7 separate regions of the Homo sapiens genome follow, and all the other regions are linked to region 1. The links come from fine-mapping of genetic effects on gene expression. A gene starts in region 1. Each other region holds a variant in brackets. All regions are shown on one strand. Distances are between the middles of the regions.

Region 1 (4,077 bases):
ACTGTAATCTCAAACTCCTCGGCTCATGTGATCCTCCCGCCTCAGCCTCCTGAGTAGCTGAGACTACAGGCATGCACCACAACACCCAGCTAATTTTCTTATTTTTTGTAGAGATGGAGCCGGGGAGCGGGAGGTGGGGCGGGGTAGGGGGGGCGGTCTCGCTATGTTGCCCAAGCTGGTCTCGAACTCCTAGGCTCAAGCAATCTTCCTGCCTCAGCCTCCCAAAGTGTTGGAATTACAAGCATGAGCTACTGCACCTGGCCTAACTCACTTTACTCTTTAATATGGACAAATCGAGGAGTAAAACAACTTGCTCAAGATCATGTGGTTCCACCAGGTGCGGTGGCTCATGCCTAAAATTCCAACACTTTGGGAGGCTGAAGTGGGAGAATGACCTGAGGCCAGGAGTTCCAGCATGCAGCTATGAGTGCACTACTGCACTCCAGCCTGGGTGACAGAAAGAGACCCCGTCTCTAAAAAAAAGATCATGTGAGGCTGGGCACGCTGGCTCATGCCTGTAATCCTAGCACTTTGGGAGGCCAAGGCAGGTGGATAACTTGAGGTCAGGACTTCAAGACCAGCCTGGCCAACGTGGTGAAACCCTGTCTTTACTAAAAATACAGAAATGAGCCAGGCATGGTGGCGGGCACCTCTGTAATACCAGCTCCTCAAGAGGCTGAAGCACGAGAATTGCTTGGACCTGGGACGCAGAGGTTGCAGTGAGCCAAGATCACCCCACTGCACTCCAGCCTGGGCAAAGACCAAGACTCCTTCTCAAAACAAACAAACAATAGATCATGTGGCTTGTTAGTAACAAAGCCTGGGTTTGAACCCAGGCATTTGGACCACGAGGCTCAAGATCTGGACTAGTATGTTAAACTGTCTCTTCTCAAGAAACTTCCTCCTTAGATCTTGAGGATTATGAGTTAGTACGTGTGCAGGGTTTAAAATATAGTGTTCAAAAAATATTAACTATCATTGTGATAATTATTCTAGGAGACTCAGACCCTGCCCTGGAGGGACAGTTGAAGTTCAGCTGGAGGGTGCAGTGATGAACAACCCCATGGCCCAGACAGGTGGGGACCAAGCCCCTCACTCACGCGTGTTCCTGGCCGCCGTGCTCCAGGCGGTAGCGCACGAGTCCCAGGAGGCGGCTCTGCCGGCTGTCCCCCTCACACAGCACACCTTGCACCGCCTGCGGCTCAGAGTCAAGGGAAGACAACCCAGAGGCGAGGCCTCTCCCCACCCAGGCTGTCCCACCTTCCCTCTGTTCCCCTGCCCCCCCAGATTCACTGTGTGGCCTTGGGTGAGCACTCAAACCATGTGCTGAACTAACAGACAAACAGGCTCTCTAAGCCTTCCTTATCTATGAAATGAGGATAATAATCCCCAACTTCATAGGGAGTTAGGAGGATAACTGCGTATTTAAAGCATTTGGCTGAGAGTCCAGGACTCAGTAAGTACTTAGTAAATACTGATTTCCTTCTCCCCTGATGGTTCAGAGGGGCAGGAGAGGGGATAGACACCTCGACACCTTCCATTCCTCTTCCCAAGGCCAGGGCAGGCTCAGGGCCGCAGTTAGCACAGGAAGGATATGATGACGCAGTATTCCCCCTCAGCCAGCGTCTCCTGGATTGCCACAGACTGGTCCATGCTGGCCCCTGCTGAGCGCACACACCCTGTGGGAGGGGAGATAGGAGCCCCGCTTTGGTCAACAAGTTACGCATGGGGTGGTGGAGCTGCCTCAGAGGGGTTGGGGGCAGGAGGGAGGGGCCTTTGCAGAGGGAGATGGTACCGGGGAGGCCTGATCCTCCTCCTCCTCCTCTTTGTCCTCCCTAGAATAGGCCTTTCAGTTTTTAGGGATAGGGGTCCAGTCCCTTTGCCCCGCTGGGATCTACAGTTTGCTATACTGCCTTTGTCTGGGAGGGCATCCAGTTGCTCTTGAGTGTGGTCTATCCTTGTTGGAAGTGGGGTACGTGGATTGGAGAAGGGGACCTAGTCCCTTTGCTCCTAGGACATGGCTCTTCCTCTCTTTTGGGGACAGTTTTTGTTCTGCTAGCGCCTCTCTGGGAGGTGTCAGTGGTGTGTCCATGTGGGGTTCAGGGAACATCCCCTTACTGTCATTCAGGAGGGTCCCATTCCTCTTTCCTTGGAGACAGGAAGTGTCCCATTGCTGCTTGCCCTTCACCCCCGCCCCAGCAGGCCCATTGCATCAGCTGCAGGCCGGGGGTTGGGGGGTGTCCCAGCCCTCAGCTTGCCCACTCCCTCCTGCCCAGCCCTGCCCTGGCTTTCCTGCTCTGCTCCCACCCACAGCTCCCTGACATTGTCACCTACCTCCTGAGCTGTCACCACAGGGCGCACGGGACTCCGCTGCCCCAGGTTCCGGGACAGTGACTACATTTCCCAACAGCCCCTGCGCCACATGGTGGTCAGTCAGCCTGCAAGTCCCAGCATGCCCGAGTCAATCGTGGGGTGGGGAGTCTCTCCATCCGTGTTAACCCCTTAGGCCCTGGGGTACACTGGGCTTCCTATACCAGAAAGGTTTTCTAATGATTGCCCTCACTCCCATCCCCAGCCCTCTAGGTCATGGGGCCAGAGCTTCCCACCCAGAAGGAAGATGGTCACATTTTATCTTAGGGGAAGAATATAATGCATTTTTATTTTCTCCTTAGTTCCATCCTCAGCTCTTCTCACTCCAGGGTAGACAACCCGGACCTCTACTGAAACTCTTCCCCTAAAATAACTACCTTCTCCTGGTTTAATGGAGGGAGAACCAGACTATGAAGAACCATTATGTCCATTTTCCAGGTGGAGAAACTGAGCCTTGGATAGGTTAAGCAGTTTGACATTAAGTCCTGCAGCTAGCAGGTGGCAACACTGGGACTCCACTGAAAGTCTGACTGCAACTCCTGGGCCATTTATACCGCTACACACTGCCCTATTTCCTCCCTTAGCCCCACCCAGCCCTCCTGCCACACAGGGCTGTTTGAGGCTACTGGGTGTGAACGCACTTTATAAAGGGTATGACACTGTTCCTGTCCGGCAACGTCCTTCCCCTGATCCGCCTGGCTTTGTGACCTTGGCCAAGACCTTTCTTCCCTTGGGACTCAATTTCCCCATCTAAGATAAGGAGGTTACCCAAGATGGACAAAAAGAGCCAGCACAGGGACTGGGCACAGTGGCTCATGTCTGTAATCCCGGCACTTTGGAAGGCCAAGGAGGGAGGATCGCTTGAGGCCAGGAGTTTGAGACCCCATCTCTAAAAAAAAATTTTTTTAAATTTAGCCGGGTATGGTGGTGCATGCCTGTAGTCCCAGCTACTTGGGAGGCTGAGGTGGGAGGATTGCTTGAGCCCAGGAGTTCAAGGCTGCAGTGAGCTGTGATTGCTCACCCAGCTCAGATAAGGAATGCTAGGATCATTCTCACTTGGCCTATTGGCTGTTTAATTAAGCTGTAAGCTCCCGTTGGACAGGACTATGCCTTTTCATCAACATACCAGCAGTTTCTGGCACACAGTTATCTATGGAGTTAGTGAATTACTTTCTGAACTATTTTAATAAATACACCTTCTCTCAAGCTTTGGCCCAAACTGAAGGAATGGGCCTTCAGTGCTGGGGAGGGGGTGACTGTTGTGACTTGTGAACAGTTTCCCTTCCTCTTTCCCCAAGTGAAGTGGCCATCCTAATGACCAGTTCAACTTTGCATATGTAAACCCCTTCCAGAAACAGTCGTTGCCTTCTTCTCAATCCATTTCTTTTCCTGGAAACATCCACAGCACAAATGGAGCTCAAGTTTATTTGAATTCAGTGTCTAAGTCATGTGGACGATGAGGGGAAAGGGGATTGACTCAGACCCTTAGGATCAAGGGGTGGGGTCACTGCAGGGAAGCAGAGGAACCCCAATTCCAGCCCTGCTCTAGTGTCAAAGCCTGGCGAGGAGGGTCTGGGCAAAGTAGATGGGGCTGTGTGCTTTTTATGATGAAGAAACTGTCCCTGCAGGATTTGGGGGTCCTCCCACTGGGTGGGGGTCAGGCAGGAGGTTTTCTGTTTTTCCAGACAAACCCTATCCTCTCCCTGA
Region 2 (4,077 bases), 56 kb before region 1:
GTCATTTCTAACCTAGACCAGGACTGCAGCACCAAGGAGTGACTTGCGGTCTGTCATGGTATCTGTTACTTTTGTGATAACAACTTCAAATAGTATAGGCCTACTCCGAACATTCCCACTTCCTTTAAACAGCCATTACCCAGGCATTATCTGCATAATTATTTGCCTTGTATATACTACTGAAATGAAAAAATGAAAAGTGCTTTGGTAATTACTTTTGGCAAGAAAGCAACACCAGTATTCAAAAGGCTATTTCTTCACCATAATTCACAGTTTGTATCCCTAGAAACAATGTTATTTTATCTTATAGTCCCAATGCAACGATTTTGAAAGATCTAGCAGAATCCCACAACCTTTATTAATTTAGCTTTTAGTAATCTTGCCTAAAAAGATTACCAAACACCAGCTAACTTCATTTTAGTAATTTCATTTTAAATGACTTTCTTCAAAGGCCCAGAATGCCAAGGGAGTATAAAACCTTGGAGGGATACATAAGAATCAAGAGGCCAGGTGTGGTGGTTCACACTTATAATCTCAACAATTTGGGAGGCCAAGGCGGGAGGATTGCCCAAGCCCAGGAGCTTGAGACCCATGTGGGCAACACAGTGCGACCCTGTCTCTACAAAAATTTAAAAATCAGCACATGTGTATTACCAGCTACTCCAGCAGCTGAGGTGGGAGGGTTACTTGGGCCCAGGAGGCTGAGGGTACAGTGAGCTGTGACTGCACCACTGCACTCCAGCCTGGGCAACAAAGCGAGACCTTGTCTCAAAAAGATAAAACATAAATAAATAAAAGAATCAGGATGGCGCTCCTTCTTCTGTACCCATTTGTCTCCACAAATATTTCTGTAACTATCTGCAAGTCGTGTCACTCCCACTATACCACACCTATCACCGTGCCCACCTAGAAAGGGCACAGAATAAATGCCTGTTAATAAAGAATGCATGGAATCACTCATTTTGAAAATGAGGGGAGAGATTCTATAGAAGAGTATGTCTCCAAATCCAGGTATAGGAGGAAGTGCTCAAATTCCAGAGTGCCAAATGATCATTCTGCTCTGAAAACATCCTAGAACCCAGTTAGCTACCTGAAGTTCTGGATATAGGTGTAATCCTCTTCTTTCTGTAGTAGATGTGATTTCACAATTGTATCTCGCAGTCCAAACTTCTGCATGGATAAAATATGAGCCTTGTCCGACACTGTGATAGTGGAGGAGCGAACCATGTCAGTAATTTCGGACTTGGATTTATTCTGTCTGGAAAAACAGAAGTATTTTTTTCATATGTGGATGAGTCCCCATGGCAAAATGAATGAATACAAAGCTAAAAGTTCCCCTATACAAGCATCTAAGTCACAGAAGACTAAAGGAGGCCAAAGTAAAATTTATCTACTAAAACAACACTATTTCTATGTGGAATTAAGTAAATTTATATTTTGTTGATTGTATAATATGTTGGTCTGGAGATTTTCCTAATAATAGAGTCACAGAATCTCAGACCAGAGGGGCATCTTAAAGATAATCTAATTCCCTCAGTTCTAAATGAGAAAAATGAAACCCAGTGTCATTAACGCCTCACCCACATGAATGGTGGCAGAGTATGGGATTCAATCATGTAATTGACAAGCCGGGCATGGTGACTCATGCCTGTAATCCCAGCACTTTGGAAGGCCAAGGGAGGCAACTCACTTGAGGCCAGGAGTTCGAGATCAGCCTGGCCAACATGGCAAAATCCCATCTCTACCAAAAATACAAAAATGAGCTGGGTGTGGTGGCACATGCCTATAATCCCAGCTCCTCGGGAGGCTGAGACACAAGAACCACTTGAACCTGGGAGACGGAGGCTGCAGTGACTGGGTGACAAAGTGAGACTCTGTCTCAAAAGAAAAAAAAAGAAAAAAACTGTAAAACCCTCTAGGTCCTTTAACTTGATCATTCTATTCTGTACATCTATTCCACAGGAATAATCCAAAATAAAAAGAAAGGCAATGAGAATTTATATTTTATTATTATTTGCATTGTACTGTATTTATAGTCGTAACTAAAATACTGATACAAGTAAGTGTTTTATCTTGACCAGACAGATTCTGGAGATATTCAGTAGGGGGCACTGGAGTACAGACTTCAGATATTTATATAATAACACACCTCAGGGGCGAGTCAGGAAAGAGTAAATAAAACAGGAAAAAAAGTCACTTCAGAGTCAGGAAACACCTAAAAGAATGAAAGAGTGAAATCAAACGTTTCTAATCTACATTTTCAAGGGAGGGCTAGACTGCCAGTTCCAAATCCTAGATTGACCACTTGATAATTCTGGGACCTTGGGTGAGTTATATAACTTCTCATTACCTGAGTTTCCCTAACTGTAAAACAGAAAAAAGTACTTACCTCTTAGGCTAAAATAAGATAGTCCAAATAAGAGCAGGGTGCCTGGCAGTAAGTGCAAATAAATGTCAGGTATTATTAAGAACATTTCCAGCCAGGCACGGTGGCTCATGCCTGTAATCCCAGCACTTTGGGAAGCCAAGATGGGAGGATCAGATGAGGTCACAAGTTCGAG[A/C]CCAGCCTGACCAACATGGAGAAAACCCATCTCTATTAAAAATACAAAATTAGCCAGGTGTGGTGGCACATTCCTGTAATCCCAGCTACTCAAGAAAGCTGAGGCAGGAGAATCACTTGAACCCAGGAGGTGGAGGTTGCGGTGAGCCGAGATCATGCCACTGAACTCCAGCCTGGGCAGTAAGAGCGAAACTCTGTCTCAAAAAAAAAAAAAAAGGACACTTCCTAGGCCAGCTACCCTGGGACAACTTACATTATACCCAAAATGGTCTCAGTACTGTGAGGAGAACCTCAGTCCTACAAGGGACAAGTGAAGGGAGAGTTGCATTACCTTGGTTGCAAGCTTTCTGGTTTATCTTGACCCCTGGAGCTTTGGTCCATAGGCACTCCCTTCCCATTTGGTCTCAAACCATCAAAGTTAGAACCACCTAAAGGGAAGGAGAAGAAATTAAAATATACATACATAGGCTGGACATGGTGGCTCATGCCTGTAATCCCAGCACTTTGGGAGGCCAAGGTAGGTGGATCACCTGAGGTCGGGAGTTCGAGACCAGCCTGACCAACATGGAGAAACCCCGTCTCTACTAAAAATACAAAATTAGCCAGGCATGGTGGTGCATGCCTGTAATCCCAATTACTCGGGAGGCTGAGGCAGGAGAATCGCTTGAACCCGGGAGGCGGAGGTTGCAGTGAGCCAAGATCGTGCCGTTGCACTCCAGCCTGGGCAACAAGAGCAAAACTCCATCTCAAAAACAAACAAACAAACAAATAAATAAATAAATGAAACATACATATGCTTTAATATACAGACAACAGCTTCGGAAATTGTAGTCTAGGAATTATTGGTAGTCCACATATTGCTTCAAAGGGCCTATGCTGATGTCTGGGTGAAGTCCCACAGACCATACACAGAAGGAGAAAAAAGTATCTCATCCAGGTATCTTTACTGCTGAAAGTGTAACTATTCCAGCTAGTCTAACTCCCTTTTCTTGGATAAAGGGTACATTAAGGAAAGAATAAAACCATGAAATCTGAAAACCTGAGTTTTATCACCTGCTTTATTATTTATTACCTCCTGACTTTGGAAAAGCCATCTAACCTCTCTCAATCTCAGTAATTTGACCTGTCCTGCCTTCTTCACAGGTTTAATGTAGGGTCAACTGAGTTGACATATGAGTAGGCACTTTAAAAGCAATACAACATATTATAAAACATAACATAGCGACTTCCACTCTGAAGAGGAGAAAGGCAAGGGTCAGAGATTAAAACTGGAAATAGTCTAAGAGCTCTAGAAAATGAGAAGCGCTTGTCATTGTTGACAAATTGCCTTGAAAACCAAAGAGCCCAAGGGCCCAACCCAGAAATATTTTGGGAAAGTCGTTAAACCAAGATAAACCTGGAAAGGAAAATTAATCTGCCAATAGCTTCTCTGCTCTTTAAAAGCCAGATCTCTTGTCAACAGGGAACAACATGAAGCGGTCACAGAGAGATGTGATTTTAAAACCCAAGTTATGGGA
Region 3 (4,077 bases), 150 kb before region 1:
GGAGGCAGGGAGAAAATTCCAAGCAGAGGGCTGGCAGATGCAAGTCCCATAAGATGGAACAAGCTTGCATGACACATGAGAGCCGGATAGAAAGGCCAGATGGGGAGTAATAGCTGGGAAAAGAGCAGGAATGGAGTAGGCAGGGCCAGATCAAGTAGGTGGGAATAATGAATGGATTATATGGAGGCAGGATGGGAGCCTGGAGACCAGTTAGCTGGCTGTTGTTGCAATCCAGATGGAAGACGGTGGTGGCTTGGCTAAGGGTAGGGAAGTGAGGCTTAGGAATGACAACTGGAGAGAGGAAGGAGGGAACCAGGTTCTTGCTTAGAGGCATGATGACTCCAACTGTGGAGACTGACTGGCTCCAGAACTGGGCTGTGTTGCATCCGTATCTCATCCACGGGAGGTCCTACAGCTGTGCTGGTCTCTCCCATCCAGCTGAGGCTCTTCTTTCTCCTTCTCAGGTATGGCTCCCATGGTGCATTTTACCGCTATAAGAACAGCATGGGCAAGAGCCTCCCACTCTTTTATATCTACGACTCATACCTGACGTCCCCTGAGGCCTGGGCCCACCTCCTGACACCAAACGGGCCCCATTCGATCCGCAACACGCCCTACGATGGGGTCTTCATAGCGCTGCTGGTGGAGGAGGGCCACACCCACGATATCCTGGCCGCCGGATTTGACGGCATGTACACCTACTTTGCCTCCAATGGTTTCTCCTTTGGTTCTTCCCATCAGAACTGGAAAGCTGTGAAGAACTTTTGTGATGCCAACAACCTCATGTTCATCCCCAGTGTGGGGCCTGGCTACATAGACACCAGCATTCGGCCCTGGAACAACCACAATACGCGCAACAGGGTCAATGGCAAGTACTATGAGACGGCCCTGCAGGCGGCCCTGACAGTGAGGCCCGAGATCGTTTCCATTACCTCCTTCAATGAGTGGCACGAGGGCACCCAGATTGAGAAGGCCATTCCCAAGAAGACACCCACCCGCCTGTATTTGGACTACCTGCCTCACCAGCCCAGCCTGTACCTGGAGCTGACACGCCGCTGGGCGGAGCACTTCATCAAAGAGAAGGAGCAGTGGCTCATGTGAGGGGCCTGTAAATGGGCGTGAGGTGCTGATGTCCTTGCCTTGCTGGAAGATGTCACCATGTGGGGTTCAGCTGAGGTTGTAGCCACTCACTCGTTCCCAGGTCAGAGGTCAGCAGATGGGTGTTTCTGGGTGGGCCGTCAGGCATGGGCCTGTGCAACACAGAGCCCGTTCCTCAGGCGAGTGGTGCTGAGGTGCTCTGTGGTGATGGGAACGGCAGAGGCTGGCAGGTGACTGAACTTAGCCCAGGGCAGCTCCACATCCTGGGAACACTTTCATGTAACCCCTTCTAGTTTTGAACTCTGCAGCAGGCTGGTGCTGTGTAGTGGCCACCCAGTCACCACCCTTGGAAGGGTGTCAGGGTCTGGGCTCGCATGCACCCTGCTCCCTTCTGCCAGCCTGCATCCTCTCCTCAGGCCTCCTTCCCACATCATCTGTCTTCTCTAAGTTAGGGAACCATATTTGAGACTTTCAAAAAGGGAACTTCTAGGTTTAAGCTCCTCCCAGTAGATTCCTGAACCCAATTATCAGGAAATCATCCTGAGCACTCACAGGTTCATTTAACACTCACTCATCAAGCACCTTCCTATGTGCTAGGTGCTGGGGAAAACTTGACCAAGGAAGAGTTCCTGTCCTGAAGCTTCCAGGACCCAGCTTTCCTTTTCTGGTGTGGCCTTGTAGCTAGTGCCTGGGCACAGGTGTTTTTCTTTTTGCAGTTTTACCTAGTGCTGGGAGTTCAGTTCTTTTTCCTCTAGAAAAATACCTCTGTGCTCCAGAGCCTAATTTTTCCCAGATGCATATTTAGCTCTAGGGAGAGGACTAGGAGGAAATCCCCCTCCCTTTAGCTGCCTGAACTGACTGAGGCCCACTCACTAGAGCCATGTTCAGTGCTACTGTGATTAGTAGTAATTAAATATGAACTGGTATTCTCAAGTAAGCATTCCTTTTGCTCTCTTTAAGACCTCACAGATTCTGACCTTAGATTCTGTGACAAACTGATACAGGAGCTGGGCTGGCTATGGCTTTACCACAACAAGTAGGTTTGCTTAAGAAATTACTAAACAATGGCTGGGCGTGGTGGCTCACTCCTGTAATCCCAGCACTTTGGGAGGCCGAGATGGGCGGATCA[C/T]GAGGTCAGGAGATCGAGACCATCCTGGCTAACAGGGTGAAACCACGTCTCTACTAAAAATACAAAAAAATTAGCCAGGCGTAGTGGTGGGCGCCTGTAGTCCCAGCTACTTGGGAGGCTGAGGCAGGAGAATGGCGTGAACCCGGGAGGCGGAGCTTGCAGTGAGCCGAGATCACGCCACTGCACTCCAGCCTGGGCGACAGAGCGAGACTCCGTCTCAAAAAAAAAAAAGTTACTAAACAAGGCTGGGCGTGGTGGCTCACACCTGTAATCCCAGCACTTTGGGAGGCCAAGGAAGGTGGATCACCTGAGGTCAGGAGTTCGAGACCAGCCTGGCCAACATGGTGAAACCCCATCCCTACTAAAAATACAAAAATTAGCTGGGCGTGGGTGCCTGTAATCCCAGCTACTTCTGAGGCTGAGGCAGGAGAACCGCTTGAACCTGGGAGGCGGAGGTTGCAGTGAGCCAATGTGGCACCACTGGACTCCAGCCTGGGCAAGAGCAAGACTGTCTCAAAACAAAAACAACAAACAAACAAACAAAAAGAAAACACAAAAAACATTACTAAACAAGATTTCTAGAGGGAATTAACAAACCAGTGCTTATTTACCAATAAACTAATACGCTAATTGCAGGAACCCTGATTAAAGCAGGCCCCTGTTAACACAAGATTCTTAGGATATACTTGGAAACAGGTGCATTGGAAACCACTGTACTGAGAAGTTTATGGGCTCAAGACTGAATTGGAAGCTAGGCGTGGTCGCTCATGCCTGTAATCCCAGCACTCTGGGAGGCTGAGGTGGAAGGATGAGTTCAGGAGTTCGAGACCAGCCTGGGCAACACAGAGAGACGTGTCTTTAAAAAAGTAAAAAATGGGCTGAGTGCCTTGGCTCATGCCTGTAATCCCAGCACTTTGGGAAGCCAAGGCGGGTGGATCACTTCAGGCCAGGAGTTCAAGAACAGCCTGACCAACATGGCAAAACTCCATCTCTACTAAAAATACCAAAAAAATTAGCAGGGTGTGGTGGTGCACACCTGTAGTCCCAGCTACTCAGGAGGCTGATGTGTGAGAATCACTTGAACCTGGGAGGCGGAGTTTGCAGCGAGCCAAGATCGTGCCACTGCACTCCAGTGTGGGCAACAGAGATTCTGTCTCAAAAAAAAAAAAAAAAGACTGAATCAGAATTTTGGGAACTAGGGTACAAGAGGGAAGGGGAGGAAGGAGGAAATAGACCCCAGTGGTCACCTCAAGGACACCCAGCCCCAGTTAGGTAACTGATATTAAGCCCCACCAGAGAGATGAGCAGGCCTGGCCACCTGGCTTTGGGGCTTAGCTGGGGAAACCAAGGCAGGCAGGGACAGCTGAAAGGGTTGGATGTTGACCTGTAGTAATTTACAGAAGGTAGCAACACTGGCTTCATTTAACACACACACAATCTGAAAAATACTAAACATGGGAAGGCCAGGGGGCAGAGGCAGCCATTCTCACACACTGCTAACAGCAGTGTAACTTGACTCAGTTCTTTTGAAGGCTAATCCATACTGAGAGCCATAAATACTTCCTACACTTTGACCTACTCTCCTAAGGAAATAATTCAAAAGAAGAAAAACAAACCATTTACAAATATGTTTAATAGCAGCATTTCTTTAAAGAAAAACAAAGTTCAAATGCCCAATAATAATTATGTTTAACACTTGGTACACATATAAATAGACAAAAGGCTGCGGAGAACACTGGATTTAAATAAAGGTGTTATGGGTATAATTAACTATAATTTATTTTATGAATAAATAAGAAAAAAGTCCCTGGCTATAAAGGATAGTGGAGGTTTATTTCCCAATATTCTTC
Region 4 (4,077 bases), 21 kb before region 1:
CCAGACAGAGAAGCAGGCTGAGGTCAGGCAGTGCAGGACTTGACCACTATACTAAGGAATTTGAGCTTTATTCTATAGGCAACAGGGAGTGGTACAATATTGAAGTTCACATACAAAATAGTAGAATACGATCAAAGTTATGTTCTAAGGAGATCCCTAAAGGAGAGGGAAACTTGAGGTTGGGAAGACTTACAAGAAGACTACTGCAACAGTTCAGCTAAGAGGATACCAACATGAATAAGGGGGATTTTGAAATGTGGGTAGATAGGAGAGGCACTGCAGAAAAAAAAAAATGAACAGAATTTGCTTATTAGACATGAGAGCAGAGGGAAGAGTCAAGGATACCCTGAGGTTGTTAGTGACTGCATTCAGAAATATGAAAATGGAGGGAGGAAAGGAGTAAGTGCAGTTCTTTTTTTTTTTTGAGATGGAGTCTCGCTGTGTCGCCCAGGCTGGAGTGCAGTGGCGTGATCTCTGCTCACTGCAACCTCTGCCTCCAGGGTTCAAGTGATTCTTCTGTCTCAGCTTCCCAAGTGGCACGCAGATTACAGACGCAAGCCACCACACCTGGCTAATTTTTGTATTTTTAGTAAAGACAGGTTTTCACCATGTTGGCCAGGCTGGTCTCAAACTCCTGACCTCAGGTGATCCACCTGCCTCAGCCTCCCAAAGTGCTGAGATTACAGGCCTGAGCCACTGTGCCCAGCCAATGCAGTTCTTATCAGGAAGAAATCCCCCTAGGATAGACCCTGAAGACAGCAGCCAGGTTCTCAGTTCTCAGAGGTGAGCATTTACCATTTCTTTTTCTTTTTTTTTTTTGAGACAGAGTCTCGCTCTTGCCCAGGCTGGAGTGCAGTGGCGTGATCTCGGCTCACTGCAACCTCCACCTCTGGGGTTCAAGCGATTCTCGTACCTCAGCCTCTTGACTAGCTGGGACTACAGGCATGTGCCACCCTGCCGGGCTAATTTTTGTATTTTTAGTAGAAACAGGGTTTCGCCATGTTGACCAGGCTGATCTCAAACTCCTGGCCTCAAGTGACCCGCCCACCTCAGCCTCCCAAAGTGCTGGGATTACAGGCATGAGCCACCGCTGCTGGCCAGCATTTCCCATTTCTAATTGTATTTCCCAAATGAAAGCACGTCTAAATAATTAGCATTGCTTAAGTCCTGTGTGACTTTCCAGGAGGCAAACATTCACTCCCATTTTAAAGACATAAGAGGAAAGTTGAGACACACGTTTAATATCGTACAAAGAGGTCAAGCGCGGTGGCTCATGCCTGTAATCCCAGCACTTTGGGAGGCAGAGGCGGGAAGATCACTTGAGGTCAGGAGTTTGAGACCGGCCTGGGCAACACAGGGAGATCTCGTCTCTAAAAACAAAAAGAGGCTGCGCATGGTGGCTCACACCTGTAATGCCAGCACTTTGGGAGGCCAAGGCAGGCTGAATCACTTGAGGTCAGGAGTTCAAGACCAGCCTGGCCAACATGGTGAAACCCTGTCTCTACTAAAAATATAAAAATTAGTCCAGGCATGATGGCTCACGCCTATAATCCCAGCACTTTGGGAGGCCAAGGTGGGCAGATCACCTGAAATCAGGAGTTCAAGATCAGCCTGGCCAACATGTTGAAACCCCGTCTTTACTGAAAATACAAAGAGTAGCCAGACATGTTAGCACATGCCTGTAATCTCAGCTACTTGGGAGGCTGAGGCAGGAGAACTGCTTAAACCCAGGAGGTGGAGGCTGCAGTGAGCAGAGATCACACCACTGCACTCCAGCCTGGGTGACAGAGTGAGACTCCGTCTCAAAAAAATAAAATAAAATAAAAATAAAAATAAATAAAAACAAAAAGAGAAAGTAATAGTGCACCAAGGAACCATGAAGAAAAGAAAAAGAAAAATGTCCAGGCCTCTTGACATCCACTTTGTTTAAATTCTCATCATTGGCATTCCAAGAAAGAAAGTCTCTTCTCATTCATATTTGCTAGCTTCAGTTCATGTATGGATCACCAATAACAAAACTGTTAGAGCGTAATTTATTTTATATATTTATCTATTTAAATTTAGAGATATCACTATGTTGCCCAGGCTGGTCTGGAACTCCTCAAGCAAGACTCCTGCCTCAGCCTCCGAGTAGCTGGGACTACAGGTGCGCACCACTGTGCCGGGCTAACAGTATATTTTAAGTAGCAAAGAAAAACATGCAAGTCAG[C/G]TAGCATCTATCCTCCAACAGTACAGTATCTTTCCTCTAATAAATATATTGATGCCTCCCTCTTCCTGAACTGTCCCTCCCTGAGGATTTTTCTGTTCAAAGCTCCACTTCTAACTGAGTGTTTGTGGGTCACCTCACTTGCTCTCAACAATAACTGCAGAATTCCAAAACAAACTGTTTTCAGAAGAAAAAAAGAATCTTTAGGGGGTTCTCTTGTACTAGAAACATAAAACTGGATTAAATGGCCCAAAGAAGGAAAATGGAGAGGGGAACAACAAAAGGAAGAAGAAAAACGAATACAGTTCTCTTTTGTTTAAGGAAACAAAGTGACTTAAAATAAGTTACTTAGGAGCCTGCAGAGCTTCCCACAACGGTGGAAATGATGGGCAATATTTGTTCTCTAAGATAAACAAAAGCAAATTTATTTTCTCCATGCTAAAAGGATATGTTGGTCACACAAGTTTTACCTATTAGTACTGACAAAACAAGATGAAAGAGAGAGTGAGAGAGAAAACCACCCCGGGGGCTATTTTGCTAACATGCTCTCTGGCTTCTACTCTGGTAAACTAGGTTACCCTTTATGTTACCCTGAGATATAAATAGCATTCATTTCCTTTCACTGGCATGACAGACTTTAATACTTTGTTTCCTGGGTCCAGAAGAAAAAATACTTAAACACATCCCCTTGTAAATTTGAGTTACTACAAAGCTGGTTCATTTCTTTTTTTTTTTGAGACGGAGTCTCACTGTCGTCAGGCTGGCATGCAGTGGCGTGATCTCAGCCCACTGCAACCTCCGCCTCCCAGGTTCAAGTGATTGCTTCAGCCTCTCAAGTAGCTGGGATACAGGCGCACGCCACCACGCCCAGCTAATTTTTTATATTTTAGTAGAGATGGGGTTTCACCACGTTGGCCAGGATGGTCTTGAACTCCTGACCTTGTGATCCGCCCACCTCGGCCTCTGAAAGTGCTGGGATTACAGGCTTGAGCCACCACACCCGGCGAAGCTGGCTCATTTCTAATCAACTTTGGATTAAAAAAAAACAAAATGTATTTGCTATTACTGCTTTGTTAAAATAGCCCAGAATGGCCCCTGTGGGACTTCTGAGTAGCCATTTCCTTTTTAGTGCATAGTTCAAAACCCTCCAGAACACAGCTCCAGGTTTTGCATGTACCCAGGATGCAATGCAGGTGAACATTTTACAGACTGACTTGGATAAGTACTGGGCCCTGTACAGGATCCTCAATGGGGTTTTCTGAATAAGAGCAACTTCAGTTGCTAGATGGAAATAATGAGGTATTTCTCCCAAATCAGACTTCACTCTTTTTAAGGAAAGAAAAAGCTGCAAAAGGAAGTTAACAGCATCCCTGGTCATCTAGTGGTTAGGAAGAAAAAAAAAGAAAAGAAAAAAGATGTTAAGAACAGTGAGGCCAGGCGCGGTGGCTCACGCCTGTAATCTCAGCACTTTGGGAGGCCCAGGCGGGCAGATCACAAGGTCAGGAGATGGAGACCATCCTGGCCAACAAGGTGAAACACCATCCCTACTAAAAATACAAAAATTAGCTGGGTGTGGTGGCGTGCAGGTGCATGTATGTAGTCCCAGCTACTAGAGAGGCTAAGGCAGGAGAATTACTTGAACCCGGGAGGTGGAAGTTGCAGTGAGCCAAGATCGTGCCACTGCACTCCTAGCCTGGTGACACAGCAAGACTCCGTCTCAAAAAAAAAAAGGAGCAGTTAAATAAGTGCAGGAGCAGAAAGACTCCTACCAATCTACCGATTCAACTACCAATCTAAAGTCAGTGCAAGCTGGGCTTGGCAAGAGAATCACGTGAACAAGCTGCCACTCAACCAAAAGCATTACCTGACTT
Region 5 (4,077 bases), 130 kb before region 1:
CCTGAGAATTGAAGATAAAATGGGGGAGGTGGAGTAAAGGAAGAAAGTTGATAATGATTCATGGGATGTAATGTTTGTTTATAGGATTTAATGAAGGCTGGAGGCCTTTTTGCTTAAGGAACCAACACAGGTAGTATGGGGAGCAGTATGGAAATGGCTCATGTTGCCCCCTGCCACCCATGCCTCCCCAAACATATTTCTGATTGGTGGTGTAAGACAATTGTAAACTCTTGAGAAATATTGTTGCAGTTCCACAAATCAATGGTTTCAATCACTCTGGAAAAGTCTTTAAGGACAATGGATGTGATTACAAATATAAAAGTCTAGAAGGTGCCAGGTTTCTACCTAGGAACAATCTGTTCCTTCCTTTCAGGCATCATTTTGTAATGGTGAAGAGGGAAAAGATGGCGAGAGACCAAGAAGTGATGAAAAAGGGCCTCAACAGTCAGCAGAAAACAGGACCCACAGCAGTTCTTCAGAGAGCCTGAGGGGGCGCCCTGGGGCACACAGGGAAGGCTTGCATAGATTGAGCGGTTGCTGAGAATGCATAATAGTGTTTCCCTATGGACAGTCTCACAGCACAGGGCTGATTGAGCGGAAAAACGCTGCCAGGCCAGGGCCACATGGGACAACGACCATCAAGCTACACATATTGCACCAAGGTAAGTGCTTTTCTTTTCACACCTCAATTTAACTTTTTATTCTGAGCAAAAAATAAAACTTTGTGGAAAGTATATATATGTATATATACACACAAAAGAAATTGCAGCAATCGGGTTAAAGATAAAATAACCTAAAGTGCTTTTTTATTTTATTATTTCTTTAATATACCAATATGAGGTTCTGCAAACTTGTCCCTCTGGACACATTCAGCATTATACAAAGTCTCTCAGGAAAACCCACCCACCCTCCAATATCCCCATCAGTCCACAGCCTTGACCCTGAAAATAAAACTCTCCGATCTACCAACTATCCCAGAGGTGAAGAAGAGAAGCCCCTTGCCTTTTACTCAGAGAGATCTTCACATCTTAAGGCCCCTCCTGGGCTTTGTACCATGATCTCCTTCTAAACGGAGGTGGAATTCAATAAATGACACCACTTCTGTCACCAAACTGGTGGTGCCCCCATGAGACTGGCCAGACCCTGCCAGCAAAGACTGGGCCACCTTCCCTCAATGCCCAACCTACCTGCCTGGGAAGGGCCAAGTTCACTAAGGCAGTTTGGTGGTGCCAGCCAGTTTCCTTACCACCTCCTAAGTCCATGAACCCCAATCCCTGGTGCTAAGCACCCTTTGAAGCGGTTGTCTAATTGGAGATGTTAGTAGGAGCTAGAAGATAACGTACAGGGTGAAAATGGTTAAGTTTACTATGGGAGGGGAAAAAGGCTTGATTTTTACCTGCTAGAATTCTACAAATCCTCCCTAACCTCACCCTAGGTTCATTTCCCAAGTTTGGGAAACCACACTCACCATGAAGGTTCTTTCTGGCTCCAGCTTAGCTAGGGGCCCTCTCTTCTCCAAGGTCCTCGGCACTAGAGACCAGGCTTATGGAAGGACAGGTAGGAAAAGAGAACTGGAAAAGGAGGGAAAGAAAGACTGCCTATCCTGGGAAATAAACCTGATCTTCACAACCACTCACTGGCATTTTAAGCACATTCCTGATTTTTCAAAAGCTGATTGGATCTGATAGTCTCTCTTGTAATCTAGAGTCACCCTCAAAAGGCAGATACTTCAGCTTCTTCAACTGGAAAAATCTGTCAGCCTAAACACTGTTTAAGATGCTGCTTCGTCACCCCCGATCTTTGAGAGTGAAAAGGCCACTGACCTGGGTAGGGCCCAACATGAGCACAGCCCTGGCTAACCAAGAAGAGTCGCTATTTAAACTGTGGGTGCTTCAGATGTCCTTCCCTGGGCTCCTATTTCCCACTTCCGCCCCAGGGAACCCAAATCCCAGGTGACCACAGGATGGGGATATGGGAAGGTCATTACTGCCCTCTGATACAAGCTTACTTTGGGGTCCCATCACTACTCTCTCAGAAGTTGTAAACAGCAAGGGCCCTACCTCAAAACTTCCCATGGGTGCGAGGCCCAGAGACAGCCAAGGACAACTCATGCTCAGCAGTTGGTTTTCCAGGAGGACTGGAAACCTCCTGC[C/T]TTATCAACTTCTGCTGAGGTCAATGGTCAACAGAAGCCACAATCCTTTTGGGGAAGGGAGTGCAGAAGGTCAAAAAGAAGTCAATTCCCTAGACCAGGCATGGTGGCTCACACCTGTAATCCCAGCACTTTGGGAGACTGAGGCGGGAGGATCACCTGACGTTGGGAGTTCGAGACCAGCCTGACCAACATGGAGAAACCCCGTCTCTACTAAAAATACAAAATTAGCCAGGCGTGGTGGCGCATGCCTGTAATCCCAGCTACTCGGGAGGCTGAGGCAGAATTGCTTGAACCTGGGAAGTGGAGGTTGCGGTGAGCCAAGATTGCGCCACTGCACTCCAGCCAGGGCAACAAAAGCAAAACTCTGTCTCAAAAAAAAAAAGAAGTCAATTATTCTGGCTAGGGTCCTGGAATGAGAAATTGGCTGCTTGTAGTTAAGATTTCTTACTGCCATTTCTCCTCATGGCAGTAACAACATTCACCACCACTGCCCTCTTTGTCTGTCCCTGAACATCCTTGCTAAAGGCAGGGAGGGCCTCTGGCTCCAAGGTAAATTATCTGTTCTCAATAATATCTTGGCTGGCCCTGAGCAATGGCTCAGAGAACAGGAGAGTGACCAATGCAGATCCCTTTACATTAGGGAATGAAAATGCAAGGCAAAATTATGGCTGCTTCCTGCCTGACACTGTTGGCTTAGAAGAGCAGCCTTGTTTGTGGAACACCACTCCTTGCTCAGGGCAAGGAAAGGGCTCTTGGGAGGCAGAGGCCTATTCTGCACCTCAGGCCATGCCTGGCCTCTGAGCTCGGTGAGTTTGGTCAGCACTCATGACTATGTTAATATAGCCTGTTGAGGGAAACTTTTCATGCTAGTATGGATTGTATCTTTTATTTTAAGAGGCAATGACTTGGAGCCAAAGGCAGACATATGGATATAATTCTATAACACACACACACAATTTTTTCCTATAACACAACTTAATGAAACATTCCAAATGAGATAACTTATTGCAACATTTCAGGCTTTTTGGTGGAAAGGGAATTTTTTTGTTTTGCTATACCCTGAGTAGAAGATCATCGTTTTGTGTTTCTTTTTTTTTTTTTTTTAAATAAATCACATGACTAAGCTGAGCAAGTCACATCCTTGTTTGCACTGTATGAGGCTGTATGCAAAATCCAGAGGGGGGCAGAGATGGAGGGGGCAACCCAAAGCCTGGCTGGAACCTGGAACCAGGACACCTGGCCTGCCAATTACATGCCACCTCATATGAATTCCCTTAAATCTGCACCTTCTTCTGATAAGCAAAATGCAGCCCTTCTGCTCTGAGGAAGAAAATACCATTAAAAAGAAGGCAGACCACCAAACAGCACTGGCCATAAGCCACAAGTTCACTCTAGGACAAAACAGCGATGTTCCCCAAGGAAAATTCACTGCGATCTGCAAGCCCTGGCAACCAACCGAGAGAAAGAACCAGGAAGGCAAGGACAGTGATCATGTTGCTAGAGCCTGCTTTGCACACACGTCATCAACAGACAGCAGTCAACAAGCTGCCTAGGGCCTCTGCAGAGCCAGATCAACCCCACAGCCTGTGAGCCAGGCCTTAAGCTGCCTATTTGTGCTGAAGCGGGCTGCAGAACGACCCGTGTTATCCACCCTGAGCACCACCAACACTAAGCACAAATGACAACACCATCTCACCTGAACCCTGTCCAACTCACAGCTGCCTCACTGGCCTTTGCCACTGCCCTCTCTGATGGAGCAAGGGTCTGGCCTTCCAAGCAAATGTCAGCCTCAGATTCAAAAGACACATAGGAAGGAGCAACACCCAACACACTGAAAACTCCTGCCCGATCCACAAAGACCCCAGTGCAAGCGATGGGCAGCATCAGATTGATGGAAACCACACCCTTTCATTTAGAATTTTTAT
Region 6 (4,000 bases), 990 kb before region 1:
TGTTTCTCCTTCCTTCTCCTTTGTCTTCTTCCCACTGCACACTTGGGGGGTGGCCACGTGACTGCTGGGGGACCAAGTGGCCAGAGCCCAAGGCCCCCTCTCCTCGGCAGCATGGCTTCTGTCCTACTTATGTCGAACTGGCAATGCTGGTCGCATGCAGATTAATGAGGCCACGGCTGAGGCCCTGCATTGGGGGACTGGCCTTGTTTCTAGGTGACCAGGTACTTGAGCCTAAATTAACTTTGACTACCCTTTGTGCTCTCCCCCTTGGGCAGGGCAGCAGGAAAATAATGGGGGAGAAAGAAGAGAAGGTGAGGAAGAGGAGGAATAAAAGGGGGAGGGAGAAGGAGAAGAGGATGAAAGGGGCTGAGGAAGACGAGGAGGAGGGAGAGGAGAGGGCAGAAATGGGGGGAACAGGGAAGAAGCAGAGAGAAGGAGGTTGGAGGGCGGAGGGGCGGGAGGACCACAGGAGGCAGGGCAGGTAGAGGGCAGCTGCCCCATGCTCTGCCCACTCTGCCAAACAGCCAGGGCCTCTGCCAGGTGGGTTCTGTCTTGTGGGGAGGAGCATCGAAGGGAAATGAATGTTCCTGCCAGTCAGCCACCTCAGCCCACAGACTGTCAGCACAGGGCCTGCCCGGCTTTGCAGATGCAGAAACAGGGTCAGCAAGGGAATGTGATTTTCCCAAAGTGACAGGGAGTGGGGATGACTGGAACACAGGCCTCCTGATTCCCTGTCCAGTGTTCTTTCTGCTGTACAATACGTACCACTCAGCCACGAGAGCCTACTCATCCCTCAAAACCCTACTCAAAGAGCCCTTCCTCCATGGTGTCTCCTCAGGGCCCACGATGTCCGTTAGGGCCTCCTCCTGACCACTGTCTTCAGTCCCCTCCCCTCTGGACTGAGCTGTCATCCAGGCAGCAGCTGTGATGATCCCATCTCTGTGCCTCTGTTCCCAGCACAGGGCCTCTGCACAGAGCAGGTGCTGAATGAATGAATGAATGAATGAGAGTAAATAGGATCAGTCAAATCTGGATGTGAACCTCCAGACCACCTCTCTCATTAGTTTTGTGACCACTAGTGAGTTTCTTCACTTCTCTGGTCCTCAGTTTTCTCATCTCTAAAGTGGATCCCTGACAGGGTTGGAAAATAAGTTACATAATGCAATCCTTCATTTACACACATAATGAACACGCACTGTGTGCCAGCAGGCTCTGATGGGTGCCGGGTCAACAGTGGGGAGGAACTTGCCTCCAGGGAGCTTAGAGTTTGGTGGGGCAAACAGATAATGAGAAAGCATATGAATGAATGAATGAATGAATAAATGACTATTCCATTGTGATAAGTGCCAGGAAGGAAAAGCCAAAAGGAGATGATAGGGAATACTGGGTGTTGGGGGGTCTAATTTATACATGGTGTTCAGGGAAGGGTTCTTCAAGGTGAGAACACTTGAAGCCAAATCTGGAGGAGAGGGAACGAGCTATGTGCCTGAGAGAAATGCTCCAGGTAGAGGGAACAGCACGTGCAACACTTGTACAAGGCAGCTGACAGGGAGAATCAGCATCACCATCAGGGTGTCCATGCTGTGTCCTCCGAAGGGCTCTGCAGGCTGACCCAGGACTACTTGGGTGAGGAGGAGCGGGAGGAGGAGGAAGAGACTGTGCTCAAGTGCCCTTTACTCATGCATTCATTCAGCACACGTCTGTTGGGCTCCATGTCTGTGCAGACACAACACTTCACTGCTAGCACTGAGGACAACGTGTGGACAGCCCTGTCCTTGCCCCTCCCCCTGCCCCTGCCTCATAGCACTTAGTCAGGAGGAGCTGCCCTTGGGCTCTGGCAAGTGCGGAGCGTTCCCAGCTTGAGCAGAACAGATGGCAAGAGGACCTGGCCTGGCACAGGTAGAGGGCAAGAGGAGTGAGGTCCAAGGGGGCCTCCCTGCAGATATGCTGTTGAGCCGAGACCTGCAGGATAAAGGAGTTAGTGTGCCAAGTGAAGGGCAGGAGTCATCCTAAAAGCAA[T/C]GGTGAGCTATTGATGGCTTTAAGCAGGAGAGTGCCATGATCAAAATTGTAGATCTCACATGTGGAACAGATTGAAGGGTGAGGGCTAGGGCATACGTAAGGAGAAGAGCTTAGGTGGTGATGACAATGGCCTAGGGCAGGCTGCTGGCAGACAGAAGAGGGCTTGGGTATGCTTAGGTGGTGAATCTGCACAATGGGGCCATGGACCAGGCAGGGGAAAGGAAAGGTGACTAGGAAGGAGTCGGTAGGGACCCCACAGGTTTCCAGCTCACGGAAGTGGCACCCGAAGGTGCCAGCTGGGGCTGAGTGCCTTTGAGATGTCCAAGCAGAGATGCAGGGCAGGTGGTGAGAGATGCTCAGAGGGGATGCTCACACAGGCTTCACTCGCTCCGCAGCAATCAAAGCATGGCCCTGAAGAAGCTCCCCTGGAGGGGAAGCACAGAGGGGGCCCTCAAATCAATGGCTTGATTGAGGGAAGCTGCCGGGAAAGGACAATTAGAGGGCAGAGGACCCCCAGCCCCTGTCTCCCAAGGGTACTGCCCCTGCAGTCAGACTGCCCTTGGCCTCCTTCCTTCGTGCCAGCTGAGCCAAGCTCTGATGATGGGAAACCGTTAGTCCTAAGAGGAAAGGGATCTACTAGGTGCAAGGGGTCAAGGGGGACGAAGGGCATCCTTTCCGCTGGGGAACCAGATGAGGGGCTGTGCCAGGGACTCTCAAAGACAAGAATGCTTCTCAGGGTGAGATAGAGGGGGGCATTCCTGTTGGGAAGCTCTCACCCCTCACCAAGCTCACCTCTCTCTAGCACACCTTACATCTGAGCTCCAGGATCTTGCCACTGCACTAGCCTAAGACGTCTTGGAATGCTGGCCCATGATTACCCCTGCTGCCTCTCCTGGAGCCCAGCACACAGCCTCAGCATCAGAGGACTTGCTCAGTGAAGAGTCACGGAATGCCTTTCAGTAGAGGAAGCCACATGCCAATCAGAGCAGCCAGAAAGGTCATCTGCGGGAGAAGTGAGAGTGGCCTGGAGGAGGCCCCCGACCCTGAAGGCCAACAGAAAGCATGTGGGGAGCCACTCCAGGGTTCTGGGCAAGGCAGCATTGTGTGGCATGTGTGGGTCTCCAGGACTCTTGGGGTGGGGACGGGGGCTGAGGCCAGCAGCAGGAGCACAGGTAGCACATGTCTGTGTTCCAAAGGACAGGTCCCTGAGGTTCCCCTGATTACTGTAAGGAGGCTGGGGAAAGAGTGTGCATGCACATACATATGCATACACAGGTCCACACACACGCAGAGAAGCACATGTGTACACACCTGTGCACGCACAAGGACACACACATGCATAGACAAATCACAGAAAAAAACCAGCTACAGACACATGAGTTCAGGCCACAGAAAGGTGCCCTTCCTCACACAAGTATAAGTGCATAGTGGGCAAGTGCCTGCAGGTGTGGACCCAGGGACACATGCCTGTGTGTACCCACCTGTGCACATGCACGTTCACACACACGAACACACACACACAGGTCCATAGGAGCCCTGGGTAAGGGCCTATTCCTTTGAGAACAGGCAGGAAGCCCAAGCCAGCTCTACATTGGATGGTGGTGCTATAAGTGGTGTCAGGGTGGTAGACAGAGGCCTCAGCCACATGGGCCTCCAACCCCAAGCAGACTTCAGCAGTGAGGGGCCACCCCAGAGTGGGTCCTGAGCTCACTGATTTGCTGAGGCTCAGATGAGCAGCCCGCCAGCCAGCTGCTTCCCCTCCTGAAATAGCAGCCCTAAATAAGTGACAGCCCACCTGGCTAAGGGTAGGGCCTGGCATGGCTGTCATCAACCCTGCCAGCAGGACAGGAAGGGGCAGGTGTGGGGCGGTGGGGTACAGGGGCTGGGCCTGACCCAACACCACCCAAACTGTGCTTCCCCGTCCACACACCGAGCAGCGCACACGTGCACACAAACACGTGGATGGATACACAGAGGCTGA
Region 7 (4,077 bases), 48 kb before region 1:
AGCCGCCCTGTCCGGGAGGTGAGGGGCGCCTCTGCCTAGCCGCCCCTACGGGGAAGTGAGGAGCCCCTCTGCCCGGCCAGCCGCCCCATCCGGGAAGTGAGGGGCGCTCTGCCCAGCCGCCCCTACTGGGAAGTGAGGAGCCACTCTGCCCGGCCAGCCGCCCCGTCCGGGAGGGAGGTGGGGGGGTCAGCCCCCCGCCCGGCCAGCCGCCCCGTCCGGGAGGTGAGGGGCACCTCTGCCCGGCTGCCCCTACTGGGAAGTGAGGAGCCCCTCTGCCCGGCCAGCCGCCCCGTCCAGGAGGGAGGTCGGGGGGGTCAGACCCCCGTCCGGCCAGCCGCCCTGTCCGGGAGGTGAGGGGCGCCTCTGCCTGGCCGCGCCTACTGGGAAGTGAGGAGCCCCTCTGCCCGGCCACCACCCCGTCTGGGAGGTGTACCCAACAGCTCATTGAGAACGGGCCATGATGACAATGGCGGTTTTGTGGAATAGAAAGGGGGGGAAGGTGGGGAAAAGATTGAGAAATCGGATGGTTGCCGTGTCTGTGTAGAAAGAGGTAGACATGGGAGACTTTTCATTTTGTTCTGTACTAAGAAAAATTCTTCTGCCTTGGGATCCTGTTGATCGGTGACCTTACCCCCAACCCTGTGCTCTCTGAAACATGCGCTGTATCCACTCAGGGTTGAATGGATTAAGGGCGGTGCAAGATGTGCTTTGTTAAACAGATGCTTGAAGGCAGCATGCTCCTTAAGAGTCATCACCACTCCCTAATCTCAAGTACCCAGGGACACAAACACTGCGGAAGGCCGAAGGGTCCTCTGCCTAGGAAAACCAGAGACCTTTGTTCACTTGTTTATCTGCTGACCTTCCCTCCACTATTGTCCTGTGACCCTGCCAAATCCCCCTCTGCGAGAAACACCCAAGAATGATCAATTAAAAATAATGATAATAATAATAATAAAATAAAATTAAATAAAAATAAAAATAAAATAAGATAAAAGTAGTGGCACATGCCCATAGTCCTAGCTACTTGGGAGGCTGGGGAGGGATGGTTACTTGAGCCCAGGAGTTCAAGGCTGCAGTGAGGTGTGATCTTGTCACTGCACTCCAGCCTGGGTGACAGAGGGAGATCCCACCTCTAAAAAATATGGCAAGAAAAATAATTTTTGTACACATAAAAACCTGCACAGAAAAGTTTATAGCAGCGTTAAAATCACCAAAAACTGGAAGCAACCAAGATATATTTCAACAGATGAATAAACTGTGATACATCCATATAATAAAATATTAAGCAATTAGAAAAATTAGTTATCAAGCCATGAAAATACATGAATGAATCTTAAATGCATATTGCTGAGTGAAGGAAGTCCATCTGAAAAGGCTATTTATTATATGATTCCAATTACACAACATTCTGGATAAGACAAAACTATAGAGACGGTAAACAGATCAATGGTTGCCAGGGGTTTTGGGGGTGAGGGTGGGGTCAAATAAATGAAGAACAGGGGACTTTTTAGGACAGCAAAACTATACTCAAAAGAAACTATAATGGTGATACATGGTAGTATCTATAGCTTTCAAAACCCACAGATTTTTACAACACAAAGAATGAAACTGGGCTGGGCACGGTGGCGCACGCCTGTAATCCCAGCACTTTGGGAGGCCGAGGCGGGTGGATCACGAGGTCAGGAAATCGAGACTATCCTGACTAACACGGTGAAACCCCATCTCTACTAAAAATACAAATATTTAGCCGGGAGCGGTGGCAGGCACCTGTAGTCCCAGCTACTCGGGAGGCTGAGGCAGGAGAATGGTGTGAACCCAGGAGGTGGAGCTTGCAGTGAGCCGAGATCGCGCCACTGCACTCTGGCCTGGGCGAAAGGTGAGACTCTGTCTCAAAAAAAAAAAAAGAATGAACCTTAATGTATACAAAATTTTAAAAAATCATTTAGGACGTCAGGAGATTCTGGAGTAAAATGCAGAAAATGACAAAAGTGTCTAACCTATATCACAAAGGTATGAAACCACCTCATTGAAGGGAGTAGGGGAAAAAGTGTTTACCTAAGTAACTTTAGAAATGAGTGGTATCTATAAGACTAAAGGCACCAGGAGCAGTGGCTCACGTCTGTAATCCCAGTACTCTGGAAGGCTGAGGCAGGCGGATCCCCTGAGGTCGGGAGGT[C/T]GAGACTAACCTGACCAACATGGAGAAACCCCATCTCTACCAAAAATGCAAAATTAGCCAGGTGTGGTGGCGCATGCCTGTAATCCCAGCTACTTGGGAGGCTGAGGCAAGAGAATCGCTTGAACCCGAGAGGCGGAGGTTGCAGTGAGCCGAGATCGCGCCATTGCACTCCAGCCTGGGCAACAAGAGTGAAACTGTCAAAAAAAAAAAAAAAAAGACTAAAGGCAAGTGGAACTGTACAGAAGCATTGTACTCTAGTTGATAATGGTGTTCCATGGGGGTCCTGATTAACAATTCTGAGGCCAGACGCAGTGGCTCACACCTGTAATCCCAACACCACTTTGGGAGGCCGAGGTGGGCAAATCACCTGAGGTTGGGAGTTCGAGACCAGCCTGACCAACATGGAGAAACCCCGTCTCTACTTAAAATACAAAATAGCCAGCCGTGGTAGCACATGCCTGTAATCCCAGCTACTCAGGAAGGTGAGGCAAGAAAATCGCTTGAACCTGGGAGGCAGAGGTTGCGGTGAGCCGAGATCGCACCATTGCTCTCCAGCCTGGGCAACAAGAGCGAAACTCTGCCTCAAAATAATAATAATAATAATTTTCTCAAGGTACCTCTAGGCCAAAAGGAATCCCTAACAGTTCTACTTAAGTAGTTAGGGCCAAATAAGTATTTAAGTCCTAACAACTTAGTAGCAATTTGAAAAAATAATACACATAAAAAGATTTCCATTTCATCTTTTTTTTTTTTTTTTATGGAGTCTTGCTCTGTCGCCCAGGCTGAAGTGCAGCGGCACGATCTCGGCTCACTGAAGCTTCGCCTGCCGGGTTCACGCCATTCTCCTGCCTCAGCCTCCCGAGTATCCGGGACTACAGGAGTCCGCCACCACACCCAGCTAATTTCTTTGTATTTTTAGTAGAGACGGGGTTTCACCGTGTTAGCCGGGATGATCTCGGTCTCCTGACTTCATGATCCGCCCGCCTTGGCCTCCCAGAGTGCTAGGATTACAGGCGTGAGCCACTGTGCCCGGCTGAACTACGTTCCACTGGAAGTTTGTCTGGTGTTCCCACAGATCTCCATGTTTACCTTGAATTTTTTTTTTTTTTTTTTTTTTGAGACAGCGTCTCACTCACTCTGTCACCCAGGCTAGAGTGCAGTGGGGCAATCTCAGCTCACTGCAGCCTCTGCCTCCTGGGTTCAAGCAATTCTCGTGCTTCAGCCTCCTGCGTAGCTGGGACTACAGGCAGATGCCACCACACCCAGCTAATTTTTGTTTTCGGTTTTTTTTTTTTGAGACAGAGTCTCTCTTGTCACCCAGGATGGAGTGCAATGGTGCGATCTCAACTCACTGCAACCTCCGCCTCCAAGGTTCAAGCGATTCTCCTGCCTCAGCCTCCTGAGTAGCTGGGATTACAGGCACGTGCCACCACACACAGCTAATTTTTGTATTTTTAGTAGAGACGGGGTTTCACAATGTTGGTCAGGCTGGTCTTGAACTCCTGACTTCATGATCCGCCCGCCTCAGCCTCTCAAAGTGCCGGGATTACAGGCGTGAGCCACTGCGCCCGGCTGAACTACTTTCAACTGGAAGTTTGTCTGGTGTTCCCACAGATCTCCATGTTTACTTTGAATTTTTCTTTTTTTTTTTCTTTTTTTTTTTTGAGACAGAGTCTCACTCACTCTGTCACCCAGGCCAGAGTACAGTGGGGTAATCTCAGCTCACTGCAGCCTCTGCCACCTGGGTTCAAGCAATTCTCATACCTCAGCCTCCCGTGTAGCTGGGACTACAGGTAGATGCCACCACACCCAGCTAATTTTTGTTTTCGGTTTTTGTTTGTTTTTTTTTTGAGACAGAGTCTCTCTCTTGTCACCCAGGATGAAGTACAATGGCACGATCT

Direction of the effects. Positions count from the first base shown, and alleles are read on the strand shown. Sizes are in standard deviations (SD) of each study's normalised expression. Not every link is listed here.
As copies of C replace T in region 5, the expression in anterior cingulate cortex of the gene that starts at base 2,398 in region 1 goes down (moderate effect, 0.46 SD a copy in GTEx).

What was found. PIP is the estimated chance that this variant, and not a neighbour inherited with it, causes the effect.
Region 2: its variant is fine-mapped to the expression of INPP5B in skeletal muscle (GTEx, PIP above 0.99).
Region 3: its variant is fine-mapped to the expression of INPP5B in cerebellar hemisphere (GTEx, PIP above 0.99). The same link has a PIP of 0.9 or more in cerebellum.
Region 4: its variant is fine-mapped to the expression of INPP5B in whole blood (TOPMed, PIP above 0.99).
Region 5: its variant is fine-mapped to the expression of INPP5B in anterior cingulate cortex (GTEx, PIP 0.94).
Region 6: its variant is fine-mapped to the expression of INPP5B in pancreas (GTEx, PIP above 0.99).
Region 7: its variant is fine-mapped to the expression of INPP5B in B cells (Schmiedel 2018, PIP 0.95).

What each region holds. Positions count from the first base shown.
Region 1 is chr1:37,944,656-37,948,732 of GRCh38, forward strand. INPP5B (inositol polyphosphate-5-phosphatase B) reads right to left here and starts at 2,398. Exons shown (of 24, transcript NM_005540.3): 1 at 2,335-2,398; 2 at 1,597-1,679; 3 at 1,101-1,195. The coding sequence starts at 1,653. It overlaps LOC105378651 (a long non-coding RNA gene), which reads left to right. Exons shown (of 5, transcript XR_001737983.3): 5 at 624-972. RefSeq lists enhancers at 2,220-2,749, 2,327-2,566, 3,956-4,077.
Region 2 is chr1:37,888,467-37,892,543 of GRCh38, forward strand. It overlaps INPP5B (inositol polyphosphate-5-phosphatase B), which reads right to left. Exons shown (of 24, transcript NM_005540.3): 8 at 2,892-2,988; 9 at 1,091-1,258. Among named protein-coding and RNA genes, the nearest start is that of MTF1, 31 kb to the left of the region's middle. The variant A/C (reference allele first, on the strand shown) is at 2,562.
Region 3 is chr1:37,799,103-37,803,179 of GRCh38, forward strand. MANEAL (mannosidase endo-alpha like) reads left to right here. Exons shown (of 4, transcript NM_001113482.2): 4 at 465-2,031. The coding sequence ends at 1,101. YRDC (yrdC N6-threonylcarbamoyltransferase domain containing) reads right to left here. Exons shown (of 5, transcript NM_024640.4): 5 at 3,843-4,077. Among named protein-coding and RNA genes, the nearest start is that of C1orf122, 6.6 kb to the right of the region's middle. The variant C/T (reference allele first, on the strand shown) is at 2,228.
Region 4 is chr1:37,923,370-37,927,446 of GRCh38, forward strand. All of the region lies in intron 7 of INPP5B (inositol polyphosphate-5-phosphatase B), which reads right to left. Among named protein-coding and RNA genes, the nearest start is that of INPP5B, 22 kb to the right of the region's middle. RefSeq lists an enhancer at 2,794-3,033. The variant C/G (reference allele first, on the strand shown) is at 2,210.
Region 5 is chr1:37,810,755-37,814,831 of GRCh38, forward strand. It overlaps MTF1 (metal regulatory transcription factor 1), which reads right to left. Exons shown (of 11, transcript NM_005955.3): 11 at 1-4,077. Among named protein-coding and RNA genes, the nearest start is that of YRDC, 4.6 kb to the left of the region's middle. The variant C/T (reference allele first, on the strand shown) is at 2,153.
Region 6 is chr1:36,951,409-36,955,408 of GRCh38, forward strand. All of the region lies in intron 1 of GRIK3 (glutamate ionotropic receptor kainate type subunit 3), which reads right to left. Among named protein-coding and RNA genes, the nearest start is that of GRIK3, 81 kb to the right of the region's middle. The variant T/C (reference allele first, on the strand shown) is at 2,020.
Region 7 is chr1:37,896,803-37,900,879 of GRCh38, forward strand. All of the region lies in intron 7 of INPP5B (inositol polyphosphate-5-phosphatase B), which reads right to left. Among named protein-coding and RNA genes, the nearest start is that of MTF1, 39 kb to the left of the region's middle. The variant C/T (reference allele first, on the strand shown) is at 2,177.